4 linked regions of the Homo sapiens genome follow. The protein of the gene in region 2 interacts with the protein of the main gene of each other region in a pairwise test. Each region holds a gene or a part of one and is shown on either strand. Other genes may lie near its edges.

Region 1 (3,500 bases), on a different chromosome or scaffold from region 2:
AGAAATCTCTAAAGGCCACATTAGTATCAAATTTCTAGAATCCTATTAAACTCAATGAGAAAATTCTAAAAAGATGAGGCTTCTTCAATACGGAGAGATGCAGTTCAGGGCAGGGGGACAAGTCCTGGTTCTATAACATCATGAATAATGTAGATAAAATTGAAAGCCATTTCCTGTTAAGGCCTCAAATCCACTAGAGCTTAGACTTATGAATACAAACGCATCACTTTAAGCAGCAATAACTTTACAGTGGCAAATGTAAATTTTTGCTTTCAAAGGCTGACGTATGTATGTGGCTTAGTGAAGAGAATCTATGGTTCTTGTCTCATCTCTGCTATTCTTTCCCTGGTTCTCTTTAGCAAGGCCCTCTATGAATTTCTACGAATTTGGGGTTGTCCACAGCTGTAATATGGAGGGATTGGATAAAAGGCTCATTAAGGTCCCATCCAGCTTTGACAACCACAAAGAAGAGATTTATAATGGAGTTTTATTTATATACTCTGGGTTTATCTTTAAGGAAAGTGTCATGAAGTGCCTCCTTCTCGCAAGTTTCCAGCTACATCCACTGTCAGAAACAGCCCACTAAGCTGCTGCAGTGCTGCTCTGACACTACCTGGCCTACTTAATATGCTCACATTTGGGCTCATTCATTATGCCAGTCAATTATTAAAATACCCAAGTTCCTGCTAAGTGTCAGGCACCTCTATGGCAGTGCCTTGCAGCCACCTCCTCGAGAGCAAAGCTTTCCTGCTGGACTCACCTTGGGCCTTGTTAACCCTTGGTCTCTGAAGTCATCATCATCACCCACTCCAAACTTCTGGCTTCGGCGTCTGCTATTGTTGCCAAGCACCTGGGCATTGGCTTTGAGGATGTGATTTATCACATGCAGGCAATACACATGGCGGATCTCTTCCCCGTTCTTCAGAGCAGTCCTTTCCGGGTAGAACAGGTCCCGGTAAGAATTCATAATTAAGAAGAGTTCTTTCTGGAGGGGGGTGAATGGGCTGCTTGATTTTTGGGGACCAGATAGGAACTGGCTGTTGGTCTTAGTCCAGGTGGATTCCAGAGGCTTCTGGAGATGAAGTGACTTTAAGTCAATATCCTTTGGGGGTTTAAATGTTTCCAACTTCTGAAACTTAGAGGAAAAGAAAAGCTGGCCCAGAATAGGCCACTAGGGGAGAAACAGATCAAGAGCCAAATTAGAAATGAATAACAGTAAATTACATTCACATAGTACTATATTTAGCGAATTTTTTCATGATTTATAGATCATCTCATTTAATCCTCACAACAGCCCTGCAAGGTAGTTACCATGATACTCATGTTATAGTTTAGGAAGCACTGAGGTTCATACAGAGGTTGTATGATACAAAGTTTACACAGAAGAAAATGGAGCTGAGGGCTAGACCCCAAGGTTTCTGACTTCAAATCTGAGCTCTTCACCCTATCAGTTGTCCCACACTGTTCTGTGGAATATATTCTGGGAAGAGTCAACATTCATTCTAGAAACAAAGGGGTTCCATGGTCAAATACCCTTGATAAACATCACAAAACTTAATTCCTCTGAGGGAGATTGACAATGTACACTCGATACTAAAGGTGTTGACAAGTTCTATGACAAGAAATCTGTCCATTTTGTTTAAATCCTAAGGAATACTATTTTCTATTTTGTGGGATACAAGTTTAAGAATTTTTGCATTATAGCTAAATTGCTGATCTAAAAATAGGACAACCTCAGCAATAAAAAGAAATAAATTACTGATAGCTGAAATAACTTGGATGACTCTCCAGGGAATCATGCTGAGTGAAAAAAAAACAATCTCAAAAGGTTACATGCTGTATGAGTCATTTAACATTTTTAAAATGACAAAATTATAGAAATGGAGACCAGATTAGTGGTTACCAGGGGTTAGAAATGGGGGTGGGGCAGGGTGCAGAGGGAGGCAGATATGGTTATAAAAGGGCAACAAGGATTTGTATTTTGCTGGAAATGTTCTGCATCTTGATGGCAGGAGTAGATACAGGAACCTATGCATGATAAAATTGTATATAAATATAGGCACAGGCATATGCAGTTGAACAGGAGTAAAACCAGATCTGAGTAAGACTGGTAGATTATATCAATGTCAGTTTCCTGGCTGTGACATTATACTACAGTTCTACAAGATTTCACCACTGAGGAAAACTGGGCAAAGGGTACAAGATGTCTTTGTATGATTTCTTACAACTGCATGTATATCTATAATTATTCCCTCAATAAAAATTTCAATTAAAAAAAGGATGACCAACTCTCATGAATGGCATCAGTGGTAAGAACAAAGAAGCAAAAACTGCCCAATATCTGGATAATTTATTTGTGGACCTACCTCAGATATTTCAAACAAATGAACAACAGTAGTACCTACTGTTTTAATGAACACTGTTTTACTGAACACTATGTATTAGTAAACTATTCTATTTTGAGATAGGTATTATTATCCCCCTCTAGCAGACTAGAATAGTGAATAGCAAAAAAGCAGATGAACTTGCCTTGGGTCAAAATGTGATAGCTCCTTGAAGATGTTGGTCTCCAAATCCACTCTTACCCATCATTATATTATCTGGCACCCACACTCCAGCTTCCTGGTGCGTTTTCTAGCTACAACTGTGCCCCACTAGGCTCTTCTAGCCTTCCTTATGCCCTGCTTCCCTATCAAGCCATCTACTGCAGGTGTATATCATACATTCTGGGAGGCCACTAAAACCCAAGACCACTGTTTTATTTAGAGCTTTCTCTATTTGTGACCGGGATGACCAAGCAACACTTACTTTAAGCTCGTGGGTAGTTTTGGGATTTGTGGCAACAGCCTGAATTGCTTTTTCTTTCAGTTCTTTGTTCACATGTTGAAGAAATGGATCTAATTCAGAAATAAAAAATGTCAGCACACTATGCAACTACAGAGGGGTTTTGTGGTCTTCCCCTGTGAAAGACATGTTGATCTTCATTGTGTTAACTCATCCTTTTCTCCATTGACTTTCCCCACCCTCTGGCCAAGTCCAGAGCTTAAAAACTTCTGAAAGGTTCATTTTCCTAAAACATTTCTCTAATTATATTACTTCCCAGCTTGAAAACTTTTGAAGAAACTTCTCAGCCTGGAATTCAGAGCACTTTAGGATATACCTCCAACCTGCATCTCCGTTATCATTTCTGGACTATATGGCCCTCAAATTCTTCTGCCTCTGTGCTTTTCCTTCCTTCAACTAAAAATTCCAGCCTCTCCTTCACTTCATTTTTGCATATCCAAATGTTATCAATTTAATGTTACCCACTGAATCACAATAAATACTTCCCAGGCTTACTGTGTTAGGCACAACGTTGGCTCACCTTGTTCCCTAGAGTCATCACTTTCTCAAGTCTCCTACTCTGCCCAACCCACCCATTCCAACACATATACATATATACATGTCTTATCTAGCAGACTGCAAGGTCTCTAAGAACAGGTTCCATGTCTGATTGATCT
Region 2 (2,392 bases):
CAAAAGCAATAGTTTTATTTGGAGTGAATGGTGATAAGCATTTAGGGCTCTTAAATCTATCTCAAACACAGGTATGTTTGATCAAAAGATCTTTAAGCCATGCCTTATCACTTTAAGACTTTGTTGCTTGATTTTGAAACCTTTCTATCATCCTTATTCACCCATTCAAAAGCTTCAAGCCACATCAAAATAAAGGTATATGTTCTTTCAGGATTTTGCTATATATATAAAGAACTGTAAAGCCAATTAACTGCAGTATATAATAATGGTAAAAGACAATATTGGTACAAGAATGTTTAAATGTCACAGCAACATTATGTCAACCATCATAAAGCCAATAAAAATGGGATAGTGTATTACTTTTCAAATTGTTACTAGATTCTGTTTCCCAAAGATTTGACTATTTCAGATATAACTTTGACATATCATTGCTAACCAAAAGAAGCAACAAATATAAACATTTGTTTATATTAGTTGCAGCACTAATAAAGCTTAGTTTGCTCTTTATCCATGCTACCCCATTTTTTGTTTAGCAATGTACAGAATAAGCCCATTTAAACAATTCAGGTTGACATTTTCAATGGGAAACTATTTTCCACACAAATTCCTTCAACAAATAGAAAATGTGACACAGTATATTCTTTACCTTATGCAGACTGTTAGATAAACTTTGGTAAACAGATAGAGAGGCTTCAGAAAACCATATTAAAGTGATTTCACTTAAAAAGGTTATGATGTGTTGGTTGAAAAAGAGTATCGACATCAGTATTACTGAAATTAATGTAACTACAACAATGTTTAAAATTTTTAAAAATTCAACTTCCTTTTCATCCTTACCAGGCCAGGAACATGACATCCTTTTTGGAGAAATTTTCATTTTGGGAATGAGAACGTTCTTAATTTGTCCAATTTCTGTTCTGCTCCATTCTTCTTTCAATATTTTGCTTACTCGAGGATAAATTTCAACGGGTTGAACCTCAGGAAGTGGTCTTTGTTTCAAGATCTGTACATGCTGGCGTACATCATCAACTTTTTCAAGAAATTTAAGTGGAGACTCTTCTTGTAAAGATATTGTCAGTGCCATTAATTCAAGCTGCTGCTCTCGTATTTCCTTCATTCTTTCAATTTGTGGAGTATATTCTTGATTAATTAGATTGCCAACATCACAGAGAGCCGTTAGGAAACTTTTTTTTTTCTGTTCTAATGTATCATTAAGCTCCTTAAAATACTGGAGAACAGCTTCCTTATCGCCTTGGATCATTTTCTCAGAATGAGATTTTTGTTCTTTCAGCTTTTCAATAAGATGGGTAAGATCTGTCCAGTGTGTGTCAGTCAACTGTTCAAGCAGTTTTTGAGGAGTGTCCTTTTCTTTCAAATAGGCACTTTGAAGGTCATCTATAGGATGACCATGATGTTGACCTATGGTAAGGCAATGACCACAAACTAATTTTTTATCTAATAGACAGTAAACATTTAATGGTTGCCTGTAATGTTCAGGGCAGGTGACAATATCTGGATGGTCTTCTTGCTGGTACTTTTCAATAATAGCCCTTAGTGCAAAATTAACAGGTAAAGATTCAATGCCAGTTGGAGCAATTTCAGTAATACTTCTGCAATTAGGGCACTTGAGTGGAATTCGTAAAGGTCTCCATATATAAAAGTTACCAGATGCCTGAAGAATGTTTTCCAAACAATTTCTACAAAATGTATGAGAGCATGGCAGTACACGAGGATCTTCAAAAATACTATAACATATGGGACAAGTTAACTCTTCCTCAAAATTGTGCATTTCCTGTCAAGAGAAAAATGTATTTTAAGTTTACATAGAGACACCTGTACATATTATTTAACATTCTAGGCATTAACCTCCAAATTGTTACCATACTGCTTGTCATTTAAAAGAGAACAAGGTATTTTTAAAATGAAGTTTTCTGAGTAATTCATTTCCTAGTATATATAGTGAATAACTGATCACAATTAAGAGTTTATTCCTTAGGGACCAAAATCATCCCAAACAAAGCAATTATCATTAATTTGTAGTAAAATGCTTCAAATTTAAGTTATTTAAATTTGTTGCTATGTGATATGGTTTGGCTGTGTCTCCACCCAAATCTCATCTTGAATTGTAGCTCCCATAATTCCCACATGTTGTGGGAGGGACTCAGCGGTAGATAACTTTAGTCATGGGGGCAGTTCCCCCATACTGTTCTTGTAGTATCACGAGATCTGATGGTTTTGTAAGAGGAAACCCCTTTTGCTTCACTCATTCTCTTTTCTTGTCTGCCGCCATGTGAGACGTGCCTTTCACCTTCTGCCATGATTGTGAGGTCTCCCCAGCCATGTGGAACTGTGAGTCCATTAAACCTCTTTTTCCTTATAAATTACCCAGTCT
Region 3 (3,500 bases), on a different chromosome or scaffold from region 2:
CCTCCAAGGACACACACTGTTAGGCTTTGGGTTCCCCTATCTGTGCCGTTTTTATTTCCTTGTCTCTTTTGTCATCAATATAATCATTTGAGGAAGTAAAGAAAGGACACCATATATTCCTACAAATGGATAGGCTGAGAGTAAATCAACTTGGTATTTGTGAACATGAATGATAAAAGGCAAAAACTTCTAGCTGAAATGTAGCACTCCTTCAATTACAAAGGCAGACAATAAGCCCTGGAGTTTTAGCAGGAACAGCAACAGGTATTTTCCAAAGCATTAGAGTGTCACAAAAAATCTCGTCACTACTCCCAAATGAATTACCAGAGCCACAGCTCAATCCGGTTACTAAGCTAATAAATGGGACTATCACCAATTTGGTTCAATACAGTATTTTAATAACTGTATTTCAAAATAATTTGTTCTCTTCTTCATCTATTTATTTCCTTTAAAGTGCTGTTAAGAGGCCCCCAGAGGCCAAGCAAACGTGAAAATTTAAGACGCCCCCTCTCCCACCAGAGTCTATACTTTGCATCACTTTAGCAGTTTCAGGCTGTCCTTCTAAACAGTTTCAGACACTTTTAACAATTTGCAACAAAAGTGTAAGCCGCAAATAGGATGTTACTTCTCATAAGTAGCACCTTTCTATTTCTGCTATTTACAAGTAGTATTTTTTTTTCTCTTTTTTCGGACATGGAGTCTTGCTCTGTCGCCCAGCCTGAAGTGCACTGGAGCGATCTCAGCTCACTGCAACCTCCACCTCCTGGTTCAAGTGATTCTCCTGCCTCAGCCTCCCGAGTAGCTGGGGATACAGGCTCCTGCCACCACACCCAGCTAATTTTGCATTTTTAGTAGAGACAGGGGTTGCCCCATCTTGGCCAGGCTGGTCTCAAACTCCTGACCTCAGGCAATCCACCCACCTCGGCCTCCCAAAGCGCTAGGATTACAGGTGTGAGCCACCGCACCTGGCCTCACAAGTAGTACTTTTCTAAAGTTACTGCCAGAGAAACGTTAACTACATATAGAGTACAGGAATCCCAACAAAATGCATTGTACTCAGTATCATTACCACAGAACCTGCTGGCACTTAGATCATAAGCGCAGAAGGTTAATCTTTGAAACAAGTCATACTTCACTGACCATGTTTCATCAATTCTAAGGCACACTTTTAAATGTCTGAAGTGAAAAGCATCCTTCACTGATGGGGTAAGAAAGCAGCGTGCCAGAAGGCACTGGGAGCATCTGTAGTGGTATAACACACTGCTGCATTTTAGATTCAACAGACTATAAGCACCTCATTTTTCTTTTTTCTTTTTTTCTGAGATGGAGTCTCGCTGTGTCACCCAGGCTGGAGTGCAGTGGCGCGATCTCGGCTCACTGCAAGCTCCGCCCCCTGGGTTCACGCCATTCTCCTGCCTTAGCCTCCCAAGTGGCTGAGAATACAGGTGCCCGCCACTACGCCCAGCTAATTCTTTGTATATTTAGTAGAGACGGGGTTTCACAGTGTTAGCCAGGATGGTCTCGATCTCCTGACCTCGTGATCCACCCGCCTCGGCCTCCCAAAGTGCTGGGATTACAGGCGTCAGCCACTGCGCCTGGCTATAAGCACCTCATTTTACCTTTTATTGTGTTTTGCTTTATTGCACTCAGCAGGTACTATGTTTTTCACAAGTTGAAGATCTGTGGCAACCCTGTATGAAGAAAGCAAGCCTATTGGTGCCAATTTTCCAAAAACAGGAGCTCACTTTGTGTCTGTGTTACATTTTGGTAATTCTTCACTATTTCAAACTTTGTCATTATTATGTCTGTTACGGGGATCTGTGATCAGTGATCTTTGATGTTCAGGTCAGGAACAGTGATTCATATGGGTAATCCCAACACTTCGGAAGGACGAGGCAGGAAGGCGGCTTGAAAGGATTCACCATTCTGGAAAGGAACTTAAGAGACAGCCGAGGCAACATAATGAGACCTCACTTCTACAAAACTTTTTCAAAATTAGCTGGGCATGCTGGCACATCCCTGTAGTCCCAGTTACTCAGGGGGCTGAGGTGGGAGAACCACTTTAGCCCAAGAGGTCAAGAGTGCAGTGAGCTATGATCTCACCACTGCATCCCAACCTGAGCAACAGAATGAGACCCTGTCTCTCAAAAACATAGCCAAGGCCAGGAACAGTGGATCATGCCTGAGGCTGAGGCAGGAGGACCACTTGAGGCCAGGAGTTTGAGACCTGCCTGGATAACATAGGGAGACTTCATCTCTTTAAAAAAAAACAAAAAAGGGCTGGGTGCGGTGGCTCATGCCTGTAATCCCAGTACTCTGGGAGGCCAAGGTGGGTGGATTATTTGAGGTCAGGAGTTCAAGACCAGCCTGGCCAATACGGCGAAACCCTGTCTCTACTAAAAATACAAAAATTAGCCGGGCGTGGTGGCTCACGTCTGTAGTCCCAACTACTTGGTAGGCTGAGGCAAGAGAATCACTTGAACCCGGGAGGCAGAGGTTGCAGTGAGCCAAGATCGCGCCACTGCACTCTAGCCTGGGCGACAGAGCGACTCCATCTCAAAAAAAAAAAAAAAAAGAAAAGAAAAGAAAAAAACAAGTTAGCCAAGTTGTAAATGCAAAGCAGAAGTTTCTTTCCAATTTTTGAAATTAAAAAAATACATACACAAATTTTTGAAATTTTAAATCACCTCTCAGAACAAAGGAAAACTTAAAGGCAATTAAAAAGTGCTACTCCAGTGAACACATGAATAAGAAAATGGCCAGGTCCGTTGGCTCACACCTGTAATCCCAACACTTTGGGAGGCCAAGGCGGGCGGATCACTTGAGGTCAGGAGTTCGAGACCAGCCTGGTCAACATGGTGAAACCTTACCTCTACTAATAATACAAAAATTAGCTGGACACATGCTGCACACCTGTTATCCCAGCTACTCGGGAGGTTGAGGCAAGAGAATTGCTTGCACCCAGGAGGCAGAGGTTGCAGTGAGCCATGATCATACCACTGCACTCCAACCTGGGCAATAGTCTCAAAAAAAGAGGGAGGGAGGGAAAGAAAGTGAAACAGCCTTATTGGTGATATGTGGAAAGTATGAGTGGTCTGATTAGATCAAACCAGCCACAACATTCCCTTAAACTGAAGCCTAATCGAGAACCAGGCCCAAGTTTTCTTCAATTCTATGAAGGCTGAGAGAGGTGAGGAAGATGCAGAAGAAAAGTTGGAGCCAGGCACGGCAGCTCACCCCTGTAATCCCAGCACTTTGAGAGGCTGAGGCAGGTGGATCACCTGAGGTCAGAAGTCCCAGCCTAGCTAACATTTAGTAGAGCCCGTCTCTACTAAAAATACAAAAAATTAGCTGTATGTGGTGGCAGCTGCCTGTACTCCCAGCTACTACGGAGGCTGAGGCAGGAGAATCGCTTGAACCCGGGAGGTGGAGGTTGCAGTGAGCCGAGATCACGCCATTGCTCTCCAGCTTGGGCAACAAGAGTGAAAATCCATCTCAAA
Region 4 (3,500 bases), on a different chromosome or scaffold from region 2:
GCTGGGCGTGGTGGCGCTTGCCTGTAGTCCCAGCTACTTGGGAGGCTGAGGCAGGAGAATTGCTTGAACCCGGGAGGCAGAGGTTGCAGTGAGCCAAGATTGTGCCACTGCACTCCAGCCTGGCGACAGAGTGAGACTCCATCTCAAAAAAAAAAAGAGAGAAAATGAAACCCAAGGAATTTTTCCATAACATAAGTTACACGAGCCCGTCATATAAATCATTGGGAAAAAGAGGATGAGTTTCTAAAATTTCACCTTAAGGCAACTTTAAATGGCTATGTCTGTGTAAAGTATCATGCATTCTGACCTGGAAATTTATAGTTAAACCTATCAAACTAGAAAAATCTTAATGATTTAAAATTAGTAAAACTTCATTAAACTTGACTTTAAAAGTGAGATTACAGGCAAGGCACAGTGGCTCATGCCTGTAATCTCAGCACTTTGGGAGGCTGAGATGGGCAGATTGCTTGAGCCCAGGAATTGAAGACGAGCCTGGGCAACATGGCAAAACCCCATCTCTACAAAAAATACAAAAAATTAGCTGGGCGTGGTGGCACGTGCCTGTAATCTCTGCTATCTGGGAGGCTGAGGTGGGAGGATTGCCTGACCCCAGGTGGTTGGGGCTGCAGTGAGTTGTGATCATGCCACTGCACTCCAGTCTGGGTGAAAGAGTGAGACCCAGTCTCAAAAAAGTAAAAAAAAAAAAAGGGAGATTACAACTACTTGGGAGGCTGAGTTGGGAAGAATGCTTGAGCCTAGGAATTCTGAGCAATGTGTCGAGACCCCATATATTAAAAAAGTGAGATTAAAACATTAATTTATTAAATTCTTATAATCTGAGAATTTAAAAAATATAAACCTTGACAAGTGAGTCAAGGTTAAAATGCATTTTGAAATTTTCTTTTGTGGGTGGGTCCATTTTTTTTCTGAGACGGTGTTTTGCTCTGTCACCCGGGCTGGAGTGCAGTGGCGTGATCTTGGCTCACTGCAACCTCTGCCTCCTGGGTTCAAGTGATTCTCGTGCCTCAGCCTCCTGAGTAGCTGGGATTACAGGCACGTGCCACGGCGCCTGGCTAACTTTTGTACTTTTTTTAGTAGAGACAGGTTTCACCATGTTGGGCAGGCTGGTCACAAACTCCTGACCTCAAGCGATCCGCCGACCTTGGCCTCCCAAAGTGCTGGGATTACAAGTGTGAGCCACTGCCCCCGTCCTGGGTGGGTCCTTTATGTCAGCTTGTAGAAGACCTGGCTTCTTTTTTTTTTTTTTAATTTAATTTAATTTTCTTTTTTTTTTTTTTTTTTTGAGAGAAGACTTGGCTTCTTTGAAACATAGGTAATGTTTTTCATACAGTGAAGAAACTTGTATTTTAAACATTTGTTTAATATAAGAGTTCTGTTTGGTCACTAAAGTAGTATAAAACAGTAACTGTGATGATTATGTACAGTTTAACATATTCTATATTAAGATTTAGAAAAATATTCTAAGTTAATAGTCATTAAAGTAAAACAGTTTAATGATATTTAAAATTCTGGCAAAATCAAAGTAACATTATAAAATTGTTTATCTTTCAGGAAAGGTCCTCAAAGATTCAGTGTGCTTGGTTACTGGTATTCTTAGCAGGATCTTCTGTTCTTTTATATTACACCTTTCATTCTCAGTCACTTTATTACAGGTAATTAGAGGTCCAAATACACAATTACATTTTTAATGTAATCATATATTTCATAGCACTTTGTATCTTACTTCACATAGTACTTATTGTATTCAGTTCAGTTCAGTTTTTAACTTTCTCCTTTCATAAGCGAGAGCTTTTTTTTTTTTTTTCTTTTTGAGACGGAGTCTCACTCTCTCGCCCAGCCTGGAGTGCAGTGTCTTGATCTTGGCTCACTGCAACCTTTGCCTCTCAGGTTCAAGCAATTCTCCCGTCTAAGCCTCCTGAGTAGCTGGGATTACAGGCACACGCCACCACGCCTGGCAAATTTTTGTATTTTTAATAGAGACGGAGTTTCACCATGTTGGTCAGACCTCCTGACCTCGTGATCTGCCTGCCTCCACCTCCTAAAGTGCTGGGATTACAGGTGTGAGCCACTGCACCCAGCCTCATAAGTGAGAGCTTTAAGTGACTTACTCAGATTTTGTATCCCCAGTGCCTTGGCACATAACAGATGCTCAATAAATATTTAATTTTTTGATACCTGAGTTTTTGTTTACATATTTCGTATTTTTAAAGTACCATTAGGTTGTTATTATTGGTCGTTGTTTCTGAAAGTAAGAACACTTACTAAATGACAGTAGCTGATAAGTCTCCATGTCAAATGGGAGTATTCTGAATTTTCAGCTTTTATTAGAATATTAGAAGACCTGGTTTCACTGGAGTTGGAGAGATGGGCAAATCTGGGATATAGTTTGGAGGTGGAGCCAGTATCCCTCAGATGGACTGGATTGGATAGGTGGGTGGAGAGAAGCAAGAATGACCTCTGGGTTTTTAGTCTAAGCAGCTGGCTGGATGGTGGTGTCATTTCATTGGGTTGAGGAAGGAACTGATTTTGAGGAGAAAAATCAATAATTTTGTTTTGAACATGTTAAGTTTGAGAGGCTAAGTAGAATTGATAAGAAAGTGGTTCCAAATATATGTCATGAACTCAGGGTAGAGGTTAAGGCAATAAATTTTGGTATCAGGAGCATATGGTTGATATTTAAAAACCACAGGACTGGACAAAACTAACCCAGGAAAGAGAGTGTAGATAGAGAGCCCAGTACTGGACATGACCACAATTAGAAGAGAAACAGCAAAGGAGACTAAGAAGAAACCAGCAGTGAAATATGAGAAATAGAAAAGTGTTGTGTTAAAAGTCTAGAAAGAAAATTATTCAGGGAGGGAAGATGGAAAAAGAGAGTGACCTTGAAATTTAGCCATACAGAGGGAGTTGATGATCTTGACAAGCAATTCATTGAAAGGAAGAGATGGAATCCTGATTGGAATTGGTTAAGAAAAACACAGCAGATGTCTGGTATTGATGAGTTTTTTTCATTTACAGGCTAGAAAGGTGTCAACTATGACAAACCGTGAAGACTTTTTCCTTATTCTATGAAGGGAAGATCTAAAATCCAAACAGGTTTAAAAAGTCTCTTTAAGCAAAATGATCCTCCATTCCATTATTGTGAACTCTGACATCCTGCCAAACTCATATTTTTTACATATCAAAATAAAATATTTGTAGCAAATTAAAACCCTTTATTAATACTTTATCTTTGTATGTTGCTCTGATAAATTTTGATGTTTTTCTTTTGGTAGCTTAATTTTTTTAAATCCTACTTTGGACCATTTGAGCTTCTGGGAAGTATTTTGGATTGTTGGAATTACAGACTTCATTCTGAAATTCTTTTTCATGGGCTTAAAATGCCTTATTTTATTGGTGCCTTCTTTCATCATGCCTTTTAAATCTAAGGTAAGAAACTCACTTATGCTTTATTGGAGTGATGTTATCGAATCACATTA

The links. Proteins that work in one complex are often made in the same cells at the same time.
Region 1: the proteins of TRIM59 (region 2) and UTP25 interact in a two-hybrid assay, tested with the Homo sapiens proteins (one large-scale study listed by BioGRID).
Region 3: the proteins of TRIM59 (region 2) and PKNOX1 interact in a two-hybrid assay, tested with the Homo sapiens proteins (one large-scale study listed by BioGRID and IntAct).
Region 4: the proteins of TRIM59 (region 2) and RNFT1 interact in a two-hybrid assay, tested with the Homo sapiens proteins (one large-scale study listed by BioGRID).

The regions. Positions count from the first base shown.
Region 1 is NC_000001.11:209,834,472-209,837,971, reverse strand, and holds part of UTP25 (U3 small nucleolar RNA-associated protein 25 homolog), read right to left. Parts: intron 2,898-3,500; coding exon 2,809-2,897; intron 1,172-2,808; coding exon 761-1,171; intron 1-760. UniProt on the Homo sapiens protein: Component of the ribosomal small subunit processome for the biogenesis of ribosomes, functions in pre-ribosomal RNA (pre-rRNA) processing. Essential for embryonic development in part through the regulation of p53 pathway.
Region 2 is NC_000003.12:160,437,395-160,439,786, forward strand, and holds part of TRIM59 (tripartite motif-containing protein 59), read right to left. Parts: intron 1,793-2,392; 5' UTR 1,790-1,792; coding exon 578-1,789; 3' UTR 1-577. UniProt on the Homo sapiens protein: E3 ubiquitin ligase involved in different processes such as development and immune response. Serves as a negative regulator for innate immune signaling pathways by suppressing RLR-induced activation of IRF3/7 and NF-kappa-B via interaction with adapter ECSIT.
Region 3 is NC_000021.9:42,977,562-42,981,061, reverse strand, and holds part of PKNOX1 (homeobox protein PKNOX1), read right to left. Parts: intron 1-3,500. UniProt on the Homo sapiens protein: Activates transcription in the presence of PBX1A and HOXA1.
Region 4 is NC_000017.11:59,958,241-59,961,740, reverse strand, and holds part of RNFT1 (E3 ubiquitin-protein ligase RNFT1), read left to right. Parts: intron 1-1,572; coding exon 1,573-1,673; intron 1,674-3,296; coding exon 3,297-3,450; intron 3,451-3,500. UniProt on the Homo sapiens protein: E3 ubiquitin-protein ligase that acts in the endoplasmic reticulum (ER)-associated degradation (ERAD) pathway, which targets misfolded proteins that accumulate in the endoplasmic reticulum (ER) for ubiquitination and subsequent proteasome-mediated degradation.